2 linked regions of the Homo sapiens genome follow. The protein of the gene in region 1 binds, or shares a complex with, the protein of each later gene. Links are inferred from orthologs where the notes say so. Each region holds a gene or a part of one and is shown on either strand. Other genes may lie near its edges. The genes, in order: GLMP and MFSD1.

Region 1 (6,892 bases):
GACTGGAGCCCTGTGAAAAAAAATAAATCTATTTTCTTGCCTTCCAGGGCAGCCAACCAGTCAGAATGCCTCTCATTTAGGCCTGCAAGTCCCATCCAAGGGAAATGTGTGGAGATGCAAGAAGGCAACACCAAGGGGACCTTATCAATAGCCCTGTCCCCTGCCCGCCTCCAAAGTCCCCCAACAAAGTATGAAGGAAGCCCCACCTGGGGGTCTCCAGGAAGTCGAGGCTGGCCTCTGAGGTTCCACAGAAAAGCAAGATGGGGGAGTGAAGGGGCCGGCTGGAACTTGATGCTCCAACCTCCAGAGTTTCGAGGCACAGCAAGACAGGTTCAGTAATGTCCTTCCCTCCAGAGAGCGGGCCTTAATTTATGGACTGGTACTCTGAGTACTTCTTGTGGTGCAGCAGCAGAACCAAGCCGCCCCCTAGCAGCATGAGCCCTGGGGCACCCAGGGCCACTGCCATGATGCCCAGGACTAGTGGGGACAAGCCGTCCACTGGAGGGAAGCCCACACCCAGGAGCATCGACCTAGAGCAAGCAGAGAGAGAGAGGTAAGCGGGCTTAGGAGGAAAGGCTGGGAGGCTCAGCCTTTGTCCACTTCAACTCCCCAAGTCCCCGGCCCAAACCCTGGCTCTCACCAGCTGAGGTAGTGTTGGTCCCAATAGCCAGGGCCTGTGGAAGCCCCGAACGTCAGATTGAAGGCACAGAAGTTATTCTGGGACCCAAAGAAGGCTCGGACAATGGGTGACTGGGGAAGAGAGTATGCTAAGGCAGGATGAAGAGGGGAAGCTTGGCAGGGCAGGGCTGATTCTCGGCCCCCCGGCTTCTGGGAGTAAGCCACTGGTCGCCACTGTGCAAAGCCTGATGGGAGGGAGCCCCACAGTAGCTGGTCCAACTGGGAAGAAAGGCAAACAAGGGAGGGTAAAGAGGACCAACCTGTGCCCGACCCTCTTTTCCTTGCCACTCCCAGCCTTATTCTGTGACTAGCAGCAGGAGTCCTGAGTCCTAGGCAGGGCCTCAATCCCTCCTCTGTAAAAATGGGGAGTTCGACTGGGTGAGGACTGAGTTGTTTTCCAAACCTCCAAGTCTGGACTCAGCCCTCCTCTTGGCCCCTAGCCCCCTTGCAGATCTCCATCTGCCAGAGTGTAAGTCATATTGCACTTTCTGTCTGTCTCCACTGAGGGCAGAGACTGGGTCAGATTCATTAGCACAGTGCCTAGCTCTTAAACGACCCAAAGAAAGTGTTGCTAAATGGCAAATGGTTGAATGAGTTTTAGGTCCCAATGGTGTCCCACCTACATTCCTCACCCATCTGCCTCTCTCCAGGAAGCCTGACCTGGAAGACGGCCGGTGCATATTCATCGTCGATGGAGTGCTGCTCCTGCATTGAGGGGCAGTCAGGGCCCTGGCCCAATGTGGCTACCTCCAGCCCAAACAGGGAACGGTTTCCCCGGGGAGAGGCTCCAATCAGGGCCACCTCTAGCTGACAGGTGTCTGCTGTGTGCAGGAGGCGAGGGGGTTGGGCTGGTCGGCTGGACCTGGAAAAGGCCTGGACCTAGGAAGGAAGAAGCATGGGAGGTGTGGGAAATAGCTGGATGCCTGTGCTTAAGGGCCACCTCCATCATTAAATCCCACCCTCACAAATCAGCCTTTTTGAGCTCTTTCCGATTTCTCACGCCTTACCCTGAAGGCCAGGCTGCCATTGGCAAAAGTCCTGGTAGGGTCGTTCATGGGGTGGCCTTGAAATGTGGCACTCAGGGTGGCAGGATCCAATGAATCAGTGATGTTGTTCCAAGAGAAATCGGCCAAGGAGTATGGAGGATATGGTCTTCCCAAAGGCTTTGCTGCCGTATCGGACACGTTGGTGCTGTCAAACTCAAGCAGCTGGAGGGTGGGGGTAGGGTGGAACTGGGCTTGCCTCAGTTTTTCTCCCGAGACCACACCTCCCACTCACCCCCTACCAAGGCTTTCATATCTGAGTCTATTTCACCCACCCCCAGTCTTTAGTTCCACCCTCTAATTGGGATGAACTCTCTCCTCTGCACTCTTCTCCTTGGTTCTCTCCCAACCTCCTCACCCTGGTAAAAACAAGGGCAGAAGAAAACTGAATGCTGTCCTTAGGGAGCACCATCAGGCCCCCATCGGGCTCAGGGGATAGCAGGAGGCTCCAGTTGACGCTCAGGGTGCTGTGGGGGGTGTTGGTGGCCACCATTACCACTGCCAGAGGCCCCAGGCTGCTCCACACATAGTGCAGTGTGGAATTGGTGCCCACTGCCCGTATATGAAGCAGGTTCTGCAGGGGGCCCAGCCAGTTAGGGATGACCTCCAGAGACACCTGGAACATGGAGTAGTGGAGGGTTGAGGGAACAGGACCAAGGAGAGACACAGGCAAAAGAGAAGCTTGAGGGGAGGGGGGCTTGGAAAGTGCTGGACAAAGGATGGGATTTTGGGGACTAGACAAGAGGAATGTGTGCGGGAGCTGAGGGAACCCTGGGGTAAGGGGCAGTGGGGACAGGATGAAAAGGGGTAGGGTAGAGGGTACAGCCAGGACTCCCCTGACCCTGGTGGGCGGGTCAGGGCACAGGGCTGCGAAGAAGAAAACATTCAACACTTGCCTGGACCTGGGTCACCCAGGGCTGAGTCGGGGTCCAGACATCACCCTCACATTTGCCCTACTCCACAATCCCGTCCCATGACCCATGACCATCTCCCACACCCTCCAGGTTGAAGAACCCTCCTCTTGGCAGCCACCCTCCACCCCTAGCCCCTGGATGCCCGGTTCCAGCCACCCTGCAAGGGTAGCGTTTCCTGAAACTTCTATCGCTGTAGCCCCAGGGCCCTCACCTGGCGGGTCTTCTCCCCCAGCAGGCCAAATGGGGCTGCAAACAGAAGTAGAGTCCAAAGGAGCAGGGGGCTGGGGGCACAGTGCCCCCAACCCCAGGTGCACTCCACAGAGCCGCGCATACGGCCGCAATTCAGCCGACGGAAGAGGTGCCAGAGGGTCACATGACTCGCGTTCAGCTGATCCCTTTCAAGGGCGGAGCCGCCAAACTATTTGCTTTTTAAAAAAATTTCCTTTCGTCAGCACCATTTAATGTATTAAAGAACAGCTTTGTATTCTATCTTAAAACAGGAAACGTCAGTCTCTTACAAGTAATACAATTTAATATGGTCACAAGATTTTAAGTGAAAAAAAAAACATTCATGCTACAAGTTTTCAGTTTTCCTTGGACAATGCCAAAAACACAGTATTCAAACGGCATGTTTTAAGAGGAACGTGAAATCTCATTTTGACACAAAGACAGGTTAAAGAAAATAAACCCAACAGGGAACTACTCCAGTACATTGCCTTAAGTTCCCAACCCTGTCCCATTGTGGAACTCATACACCTTCTTTCTACTCCAGCACATGAAACTCTGTGGTTCTTCTTCCCTGTGGAACAATGTGGTTCTTCTTCCCTGCCTAACATTTCAACAAAAATTGTAAATATTTAGAGATGTGTCACTAAATGACAACAACATACTTCCAAAAAAGCCAACTTATTTGTTAAATGTTGAAAGAAAAGGCCGGGCACGGTGGCTCACACCTGTAATCCCAGCACTTTGGGAGGCTGAGGCAGGTGGATCACAAGGTCAGGAGTTCAAGACCAGCCTGGCCAAGATGGTGAAAGCCCGTCTCTACTAAAAATACAAAAAATTCACTGGGCACGGTGGCAGGGCCCTGTAATCCCGGTGGCAGGCGCCTGTAACCCCAGCTACTCGGGAGGCTGAGGCAGGAGAATCACTTGAATCCGGGTAGTAGAGGTTGCAGTGAGCCAAGATTGTGCCACTGCACTCCAGCCTGGGCGACAAGAGCGAGACTCCGTCTCAAAAAAAAAAAAAAAAAAAAAAAAAAAAAAATATATATATATATATATATATATATATAGAGAGAGAGAGAGAGAGAGAGAGAGAGAGAGAGAAAGAAGGGGCTAGGCCGGGCACAGTGGCTTACGCCTGTAATCCCAACACTCTGAGAGGCCTTGGTGAGTGGATCACTTAAGGTCAGGAGTTAGAGACCAGCCTGACCAACATGGTGAAACCCCGTCTCTACTAAAAATACAAAAATTAGCCAGGTATGGTGGCAGGCGCCTGTAATCCTAGCTATTTGGGAGGCTGAGGCAGGAGAATCGCTTGAACCTAAGAGGCAGAGGTTGCAGTGAGCCGAGATTGCGACATTGCACTCCAGCCTGAGCAACAAGGGGCAAAACTCTATCTCAAAAAAAAAGAAAGAAAGAACGGGCTAAAATTTGGTGAAATTTAAAAGGGTTGTAGAAAACTTTGGAGTGTTTGTTTTCTTCACTTCACTCTGATTTTATTTTATTTATTTATTTTGAGACAGCATCCTGCTCTGTCACCAAGGCTGGAGTGCAGTGGCACAATCATGGCTCACTGCAGCCTCAAACTCTCGAGCTCAAGTGATCCTCCTGCCTTAGCCTCCCAAGTAGCTGGGACTTCATGCACATGCCACCATGCCTGGCTAATTTAAAAAAATTTTTTTTTGTAGCGACAGGGTCACACTATGTTGCCCAGGCTGGTCTTGAACTCCTGTGCTCAACTGATCCTCTCACATGGGCCTCCCAAAGTACTGGGATTATAGGGGTGAGCCACCACACTAGCCATCACTCTGATTTTAGAACACAGGGCTTGTGCACAAAGGTTAGGATAAGGAACTAAAGATGCCAAAAAATACCCCAAACATTAATTGCAAAAGAAAGACTAATGTTTATGAAGAGCTTATAACATGGAAAAATATTTGTTATAAAATTAAATGAAAAAGTAGGATACAAAACTATATAAACAGTAAGATCTCAACTATGTAAAAAAGGATAAAGGAAATAGCTCAAAATGCTAATAGCGGTTGTATTTAAGTAGTGTATCTATAGTGATTTTTTTTTTCCTTTTTCCTTTTCTGTCTCTTCCAAATTTTTCTCTACTGGGGGGATTTTTATTGTTGTTGTTGTTGTTTTTTGTTGTTGTTGTTTGTTGTTGTTTTGAGACGGAGTCTCACCTGTCGCCCAGGCTGGAATGCAATGGCGAGATCTCGACCCACTGCAACCTCTGCCTCCCGGGTTCAAGTGATTCTCCTGCCTCAGCTTCCCGAGTAGCTGGGATTACAGGCACACGCCACCATGCCCAGCTAATTTTTTTTTTTAAATGGAGTCTCGCTCTGTCACCCAGGCTGGAGTGCAGTGGTGTGATCATGGCTCACTGCGACCTCCACCTCCCGGGTGGAAGCGATTCTCCCACCTCAGCCTCCCACGTATCTGGGACTACAGGTGTGCGCCACCATGCCTGGCTAATTTTTATATTTTTAGTAGGGACAGGGTTTCACCATGTTGCCCAGACTGCTATTGAACTCCTGAACACACACACACAAAATTAGCTGGGCATGGCGGCGCCTGTAATCCCAGCTACTCGGGAGGCTGAAGCAGGAGAATCGCTTGAACCTGGGAGGTGGAGGTTGCAGTGAGCCAAGATTGCACCATTGCACTCCAGCCTGGGCAACAAGAGCGAAACTCTGTCTCAAAAAAAAAAAAAATTCTTCAGTCTCTTCTTCCATCCATTAATTTTCTTTTCTCTCTCTCTCTTTTTATTTATTTATTTTTGAGATGGAGTCTTGATCTGTCGCCCAGGCTGGAGTACAGTGGTGCAATCTCAGCTCACTGCAACCTCCACCTCCCGGGTTCAAGCAATTCTCCTGCTTCAGCCTGCTGAGTAGCTGGGATTACAGACATGTGCCACCACGCCCAGCTAATTTTTGTATTTTTTAAGTGGAGACGGGTTTCACTATGTTGGCCAGGCTGGTCTCGAACTCCCGACCTCAAGTGATCTGCCTGCTGCGGCCTCCCAAAGTGCTGGGATTACAGGCGTCAGCCACCGTGCCCAGCCATCCACAGATATTCACTGTGCTCCTGCGTCAGCCGCTCCAGGTCTTTCAATCACATTTGGATGATCTTCCAGATCGTCATAGAGTGATCTGACGATGTCCAGTCTCCTGTAATTCTTGGGCTTGACTAGGCTTCCGACAACCTGGAGGCATTGCTCTTTCAGGGTATACACTGCAGTGTGATGTTGGCAAAAACAGGCTGTCCATTAACATTGGAAGATGGCACAAACAATTCAGTTTGGTTAACCAGAAGCTTATCATGTGTCCTTGCATCTCTGAAGAGCCAAGGGTGGCTTCGGAAGTTGTGGATGCGGAAGTCCCTGCCGGGCAGCAGCGTCAGGTAGGGCAGCAGCTTGCCATAGTAGTTGAGCCACACAGGCAGCACGATTCGTGGGCTGTGATTGCAGATGATGATCCGGGAGAGCTCGCGTGAGTTCACAGAGCGCAGCACAGGCCATGCTGCTCTGGCTGCCATCTCCTCCTCGGCGCCCAACTCTTCCTGGCAGTACTCTTCTGGGCCTGCCTCCTGGGTGCCCGCCTGGGCCTCTAAACCCACCCCGTTCCCCGCTCTCCAGGGCATTACCTCCGAAGCCTTGACAACTTGGGCCTGCCCATACCAGTTCTTAAAGAGACTACTTCCGTTCACCCGGATTTCGGCAAGAGTTACAATGGAATCAGAAAGGCTGGGAGTATATAACCCCCTACCTGGGTGGTAAGCAAGACATCCTAGATCAGACAGACTTACTCCCAGCCTCTCTTACCTAGCCCGTCCCACTGAAGAGCTACCTATAGTGGGAGAGATCCAAATGGGACCCCAATAATACAACTGTGATAGGAAGATCCAGAGAGGAATTTGAGGGTATTCCATGAGATAGCACACCTGAGGGTTCTTTATGTCAATCTAATATTTATTGGACACTTCATGGCCAGGCGCAGTGGTTCACACCTGTAATCCCAACACT
Region 2 (7,525 bases), on another chromosome or scaffold:
GTTATAGTCAGACAGAAGTGGTCCCTGTAGCAGGGTGTCTGATCCTGGAATCCAGGAAGCCCCTGAAATGGCATGTGAACTCAAGAAGTTCCCAGGGTTCCCAGGTGTGACCATTTTCCTGGGCCAGGGGCCATAGCTTTCATGAGATTCTCAAGGAAGTTAGTGAGACTTATAAATGGTTAAAAAAAACTTGCCCTTTACAGAAAGAAGAATGTAACTACTTTCCACTTTAGATTGTCATATTTTGATTTGTTAGTTGCTAAACTTAACTGTTTGGAAAAAAATAGTTTTATTTTCTTTTCATATAGGATATGCAAGTGAATACCACGAAATTCATGCTGCTGTATGCCTGGTATTCTTGGCCCAATGTAGTTTTGTGTTTCTTTGGTGGCTTTTTGATAGACCGAGTATTTGGAATACGGTAAGCTTGAAAAGAAACTATGGGTAAATCTTACCTGATTGTTAGAAAAATACAGAGCTAGATTAAGGTATTTCTAGAAAGAGCTGAATAAACTTCTGTATTAACTAATAATTTGCTTGAGTTTTTTAAAAAAATGATTTTTATATCTCTGGAGTTGGTTTTTGAAACGTGGTATTTCAGTTAAGGTCAGGACTAGTAAATGCTGATGGTATAAGGTAACTCAGTTATCCATAGGAAAATTATACTCACCCTTGGGATCAGGTAAACCAGGTTCTGAATCTTATCGTTGCCACTTTCTCATCTTCCTGGCTGTTCTGAGCTGTTTGCAGCTTCCTGAGCTTCAGTTCTCTCATTGCCAAAATATAGATGATTCCTACCTTGCAAGGTGGTTATGAGGATTAAGTGAGAGATGGATGTACAGTATTTGGCACATAGGTAGTATGTGCTTCCTCCAGCCCCGGTGAGATTTTCTATTTCTGCTTTTCTTGGGGTGTAAAACATTTTGTGACCACTTCTGTTAGAGGCTGAGCAGGGAATAACACTATAAGGTTTGCCACTGTTCATCCTTATTATTGTGTGTATGTTGTTAGTGGAACTGAAGAGGAATATAGACTGGGAATATTTTCAGAAGGCAAAGACCAAGATGATGAAAGGTCTTCAAACCATGTCTGGTGGATAAAGATTAAAGAAACTTTAAGAGTTTACACCTGGGGACTAACCTTTAAAATTTTTGAAGAGTTAAAATATGAAGGAAGAATTAAATTTATTTTTTTTGATCTCAAGAGAGAGAATTAGCTTGAAACTTCTGGGGAACAGATTCCTTTTAATATGAGGAGTTTGCTTGGTCAGATTGGCAGGAGATGACAAGAATTGTCTTGGAACCATAGTAAGTTTTCCAGTGCTAGAGAACATTGCTAGAGAACATTCAGTAGAACATGGCATGGTCATTTCACAAGGATCTTGAGAGAGATTTAAGTTTAAGAAGTATGGTTTACCCTGATGGCCTTTAAGGACTCTTCTAATACTGGCATTTTATTATTCTAGGGCAACATTAATCTGATGTCCAGATTGTAGGATGTTAGATTTGTATAACATGGTTGGTGTTTGTCCTTTTAAAAATTGGTTTTAGTTATCAAGAATTATAACCACTTAAAATTACTTACTGTAAAATTCCTTGGAATCAATCCTAAACTCTTAATAGAAATTTTATGAAGAATTTACATTTTTAAGTAGTTTTGACCCTGGGAACTTCTTGAAGATTAGTTGATTAGTTTTATTTAAGAGATGATAATGATTTAAACTAATATATGCCATTGCTAAAGCCTCCGGAATCCCCTTAGAAGTCTAGACTTCTGTAGATTCATATTTAGCCTGAGAGTTGCTGGCTTCAGAGGGAGATGAGCCCTTTATTTTTCTTTCTTTGGAGGGAATACAGAGGGAGGCAAAGAAAACCAAAGTGAATTATTACTAAAGGACTTTGTGATTACTAATACTAATGTAAACAGAAATTAAGATTTTTTTTTTCTTTTTCTTTTTCTCATTCTCATTCTTTCTTTCCCAAACAGATGGGGCACAATCATTTTTAGCTGCTTTGTTTGCATTGGACAGGTAAGGAAGGCCAAAACATTCATTGATTATTGACAGTGACTTCTAAATTCTTATCTAATTAATTCCATTGGCAAAGCTGTGTTTAATTAATGCCTAGCTTAATTAAGCAGAACCCATAAATGCCCATGTGATATAATCCATAGTCTATTTTAAGCCTTGAAATAAATGAACATTAATATTTTAACTTCACAGATTTATTAAGGAGAAATATTAAAACTATTGTAGAAGTTGAGATTTATCATGTTCCTTTTGCTTCTCTTTAATACTTTGAATTTACTTTTTCATTAATTTGACATGAACTTCTACATTATAGGTTGTTTTTGCCCTGGGTGGAATATTTAATGCTTTTTGGCTGATGGAATTTGGAAGATTTGTATTTGGGTAAGTTATGCATAATTTAATTTATCCTAATGTATTATTGTTTTAGTGTTCATCTATGAAAGATCTTTAAAAAACCTTGTCTCTTCTGGGGAATTACTTCAAATCTTTGAAACCTAGCTTCATATGCATAAGAGTATTTCTTAGTTGTCTTAGTTTTCCTTTAAAATAAGCAACAATTTTGAATGGTCCTAATCAACTCTGTGTGGGGTTTGAGTATTAAATAGTTCTCTGGAAATGATATTTTTCCCAGGCATTTTGCCTGTTCTGTTGTATTAAAGACTATGATTTGAACCACATTTAGAAAAGTATAGACCATCGATTTCTAGGTTGGTGACTGATGGACATTTCACTCTTTCTTAGCAAGTGATGCGAGGGTCCTTTCAACCCTGTCCAAGAGCTTTGCTTGAATGAGCACAATATGTGTAAGCTGACTATTCTGTGTGAATTCTTATAGACCAGTTGTTCTACCTGAATTGCATTGTCTGTTCAGTAAGCCTATTCTGAGACCAGCCTTGGGCTTGCTGCCCTGAGGGACCCAGATGACAGAACTGACTCAGTTTTAAAAGCATAACTTATTCAAGCTTTGCACAGGTGTCAGGAGCATGTAGACATAGGTGACATACCCCAAAAAGTAACCGTCAGTGAGAGAGAAGGAAGAAGAATGTATGTAAAGTTATGACAGGGATTCAGAAACAGAAATGTGGTCAGAAATGGCCTTACAGATGAAGTAGGCCTTGACAGAAGTACAGGATTTGGATTATTAGAAGAGAGGGAAAATATTTTTGGGCTAGGACAGAGTCACAAGAAATAAGACTATTTCTTATTTGTCTTAAGACTGTTTCTTAGTCCTTAATACTGAGGTGGCCTCGGTGTAAGGATATGGAGGAAGGAAGCTCCTAACTGAAGGCCCTTGGAGGAGAATCGTAAATATTGAAACTTACTGAAGGAAAATTAAAACCCAGGAAGTAGGAGAGTGTTGAATATGGAAAGTGAATGTGGGGATTGATTGATGGAGAGCTTTGCATATTGTTCTGAAAAATGTGAGTTTTTATGTTTTCACAAAGCATGGACCACTTTTCCCACATCTGCATTTTATATAATATCGATGGTAATGTAGTAACCAAGACGACTCCTTTTGTTGCCTATCATGGTTATTATTGCAGTATATCATGTGACTCCCACACTTAGCGGTATAAAACTACCATTTCATTATGCTCATGGACTTTATGGGCAGGAATTCGGACAAAGTGTAGCAAGGACAGCTTGTCTTTGCCTCTAGTGTCTGGGGCCTCAGCTGGTAAGATTCATGGAAGGGTGGGGGCTGGGATCATCTGAAAGCTTATTGACTCACATGTTTGGCACCTGGACTGGGATGCCTCAAAGACTGGGACTGCTGACTGGGGCACTTACATGTGGCCTCTCTTTGTGGTTTGCTGTCTCATAGCATGGGGGTAGTGGTTCAGGGCTCCAAGTGCGAGTGTCGGAGTGAAAAGGTGATGTCACCTTTTATAACTGAGCCTTGGGATCACACTGTCTCATTTCCACCATATTCTATTGGTTGAAGTAGTCACAAGCCCACCTGGATTCAAGGGGAGGGGACAGAGGCCCCATCTCTTGATAGGAGAAGTGCCAACATTTTAAACCTGCTGCATTGCTAACTGTAGTATTTCTTTAAAGTTGTGACTTCTGGTTTTTTTTTTTTTTTCTATTTTTAGGATTGGTGGCGAGTCCTTAGCAGTTGCCCAGAATACATATGCTGTGAGCTGGTTTAAAGGCAAAGAATTAAACCTGGTGTTTGGACTTCAACTTAGCATGGCTAGAATTGTAAGTATAATGAAAAGCCTGATGAAGCCAAATGGAAGCAAAAGATTAAATCTTATAGTTCTCTTAAAAATCACAGGATGAAATGTATTTGTGTATGGTAAATTAGATATTAACTTTTATGGATTTCTCTAGAACACAGCATGGCATTTACCTTGAGTAAAGCATTTCTAACCTTATTTCATCTAGTAAACAGTCTAAAATGGTTGTGTACATTCATTAGTTCAAAGAATCTGAGCATAGGGAGAGATCCTGTAAGTTTTGTTGTCTAATTTCTTACCCATTTTTGGCATCCCTGCTAGAACCTCTCCACATACGGCTGTCCAGGTTCAGTTTGCAATATTTCCAGGGATTGCAAGCTTGCTCTGTGATGAAGCAGCCCACCTACCTTAATGAACTTTATGAAGCGTAACCTCACATAGCGATGAAACCTCCATTTACAAGTAGCTTTTACTGATGGCTCTGACTTTTGCTCTCTGTAGATAAAGTTTACTTCCTCTGCTGTGCATCAGCACTTTGCTCCTTTGTAGACAGCTCTTAAGTTCTTGGTTATGTGTGCTCATTTCCTGTGGTTGCCTGAGCCATATGACATGGATCTCAGCTCCCTTACCATGGTGCTTATGCCTCTCTGAACTTATCTCAGTTAGCCAGTACTCCTGTTGGCATTTGGAACTTAGAAATGATCATGGTGTTTCAGGTTTGGTCTTAGAGGCTACCTAGCGGGAACAACATTATGGGTTTCGTTTGTTTGTTTGTTTGAGACAGGGTCTCACTTTGTTGCCCAAGCTGGAGTCCAGCAGTGCAATCTTGGCTCATGGTAGCCTCGACCTCCCAGGTTTAAGTGATTTTCCCACCTCAGCCTATAGAATAGTGAGACTACAGATGTGTACCACCATGTGCAGCTAATTTTGTGTATTTTTTATAGAGACAACACTATGTTTTTATTAATGCAAACTATAAGGTGTGTTGGCATTCCCAAATCCCATTAGGTTTTTTCTCTCAAGAATTCCCATGAATAGAGTATTAAAAAAAAATTTTTTTTGCCACTAAAAATCAAGCTTTCAAGCTTTGATTTTTAGTATATGTGCTGCCAAGGCGAGCAGAAGCTTTGACTTTTAATAAGTGTCGTGAAAATACAACATAGTCTCAGAGAATAAGAAACTCAATATAAAAATATTTTCATATAATACTTCATCATATGAGTATTTCTGTATTTTTATACATGTAAGTTCTTTCTGATTTTTCACTATTATAAATAGTGCTATAGTCTGACACTCTCGCTATGAAAGTTCTGTGCATCTCTTTTAGTCTCCATAGGCTAAGTGGCTAGGAATGGAATTATTAAGTCAGGGTATTTGTTAGGTCATCTGAGGACTATTGAGAGATATTTCCGCATTATCATTCCAGAGACGTTTACATCCCCACCTGTGGGATATGAGAGGATCCCTTTTATTGTAGCATTGATAGTACAGGCTATTATTACTTTTAGAAAATTACTTTATCACTTTGATAGGAAACAGCTAAATATTTGAATTTGTAATTCTTTGGTAAATAGTGTGGTTTTCCATATTTTCTAAATTTTGCCTATAAGGATATTCCCAAAGCCTTCATTACGAGTCTTGTGCAAGTCCAGATATGTCTGTGGCAGTTTGTGAATCTAGTTGTCTAACAACTTTTTAAAGAAGGAAGTGAAATCAGTTGAGCAAGACTCAACTGACTTCATTCTGGTTACCAGGACATCAGGTTCTTTTCTGTGTCATTTTAAGTTAGCTATAATTCATTAAGCTGCATTCTGAGGAGCCCTAAGTTTCTCTCTTTCTCTGTGTATGTATTTTCTTTTGATGACAGAGCTACTAGGATTGCTAACGGAAAATATGTAGAGTGTGGGGGAAAAACAACGGAGGCGCTCAGGATGACAGCACAGTTTTTGCTTAAGCAACTGTGAGCGCTGTAACCTAGCTCTTGATACTCTGCCCACCATCCCCTAAACCAGCTCCTGCTGTACTTTTCACATCCTTAGTTAAAGGCAACTGGGTTTTGGTCGTGTTAGGTTAGACATGCCTGCCATTCATCCAAGTGGAAATGTTGAGTAGGCAGTTGCATATACAGGTGTAGAATTCAGGGGAAAAATCTGGGCAAGTGATGTAAGTTCAGGAGCAAGGAAAATGCTACTTAAAATGGCAAAACTTGGTAAGATCACCAAGACTATGGATGTTGAAAGAAAAGAGATGATGTCAATTGACCAAGCCCTGGGGCACTTCCCACATTTGCAGGTTGAGAAGATCGAGATGGAACCAACAAAAGGGCTCCATTGGGGTGGGCAGAAAGGCAAGGGGGAAACTATAGGCTGTGGTATCCTGAAACCCAAGAAAAGAAATCAAGGTGGAGAGGATGTCAACTGCGTGAAATGCTATTGATAGGTCAGACACTGCTGAAGACTGAGAAGTGTACATGCCTTCAACAATGTTCTCACAGCAAATACAGTAGCAAATTTCACATGGCTGTTTCTTATAAAATACTAGCTAATGGCATTACTCAAATAAGCAACAAGGTAAACAGAGACCTACTGGAAGCTTTCTCTAATACCATCAAAAATATAAATTCCTCAAAGATAGGATGTTGCCTTAATAATCCTTTCATTCCAAAATACCTATTAAATAACTATTTAAAATCTCTTTTAACTATTTAAAATATCTATTAAATAAAATAACATGACCTGGCTTAGCAAGTACTCAATAAATGTTTGTTGAAATAATGAGTTTTCAAGTAACAATAGTGAAGGAAAATTGAAAGGGTGCTGGATCTCCAGTCCCGAGCTAAGACATGAATACTAAGAAAAATGAGAAGTGCACTGAAGGTATATGGTATATGCTAATAGTTCAAGTGTCTAAACACAATCAAACTCAAAAACTCAGGCAATAGAAAAATCATGGAGAGGTAAACCCAGGACCTCTGTGGTCATTCTGGAGGCTGCACAGGGAACAAGAGAAGCGCAAAAAAGACGGAATCTATGTCACCCCCAGCAGCCCTATAATGGAATAGCTCTTGGCCATTTTGATCATAAAATCATCTTACATGGACGCTAAATACATAAATCAGATAAAAGTTGAGCAGCGTTGGCTGAAACTGAGGTGGCTGCCTGCGATCTGGCTCATTTCACCTCCTCAAGATCTCCCTACCACTCTCATAATCCCTAAACTGCCTCTAAGAAGCCCCTGAGATTCCCTTCTAGAAACTCAGGGCAACTTATATGCAAATATATCTATGCTCTGACCACTTCCCACCATGCCCACT

Evidence for each region.
Region 2: the proteins of GLMP (region 1) and MFSD1 are in contact, whole or in part, in a cryo-EM structure (PDB 8R8Q), measured with the Mus musculus proteins. The link is inferred for Homo sapiens from one-to-one orthologs. Residues at the interface, in NP_064387.1 of Mus musculus: Glu250, Asn252, Ser253, Ile254, Asp255, Asp256, Glu257, Pro260, Ala261, Phe263, Gln264, Arg292, Phe364, Leu367, Val368, Ile371, Met372, Ala375, Ala378, Leu381, Met382, Gly385, Phe389; in NP_080089.1 of Mus musculus: Val288, Glu292, Lys293, Arg295, Phe349, Phe351, Leu411, Asp412, Lys414, Gly415, Tyr416, Leu417, Leu418, Val421, Ile424, Ser428, Leu432, Val435, Leu439.

The regions. Positions count from the first base shown.
Region 1 is NC_000001.11:156,292,680-156,299,571, forward strand, and holds GLMP (glycosylated lysosomal membrane protein isoform 1 precursor), read right to left. Parts: upstream 3,001-6,892; 5' UTR 2,967-3,000; coding exon 2,847-2,966; exon of another isoform or gene 2,618-2,846; intron 2,338-2,617; coding exon 2,080-2,337; exon of another isoform or gene 1,997-2,079; intron 1,887-1,996; coding exon 1,686-1,886; intron 1,558-1,685; coding exon 1,339-1,557; intron 1,032-1,338; exon of another isoform or gene 939-1,031; intron 898-938; coding exon 641-897; intron 531-640; coding exon 365-530; coding exon of another isoform or gene 333-364; 3' UTR 9-332; downstream 1-8. Other genes in the region: VHLL (von Hippel-Lindau-like protein), read right to left, coding at 6,091-6,510. UniProt on the Homo sapiens protein: Required to protect lysosomal transporter MFSD1 from lysosomal proteolysis and for MFSD1 lysosomal localization.
Region 2 is NC_000003.12:158,805,054-158,812,578, forward strand, and holds part of MFSD1 (lysosomal dipeptide transporter MFSD1), read left to right. Parts: intron 1-308; coding exon 309-421; intron 422-1,986; coding exon 1,987-2,029; intron 2,030-2,342; coding exon 2,343-2,410; intron 2,411-4,125; coding exon 4,126-4,234; intron 4,235-7,525. UniProt on the Homo sapiens protein: Lysosomal dipeptide uniporter that selectively exports lysine, arginine or histidine-containing dipeptides with a net positive charge from the lysosome lumen into the cytosol.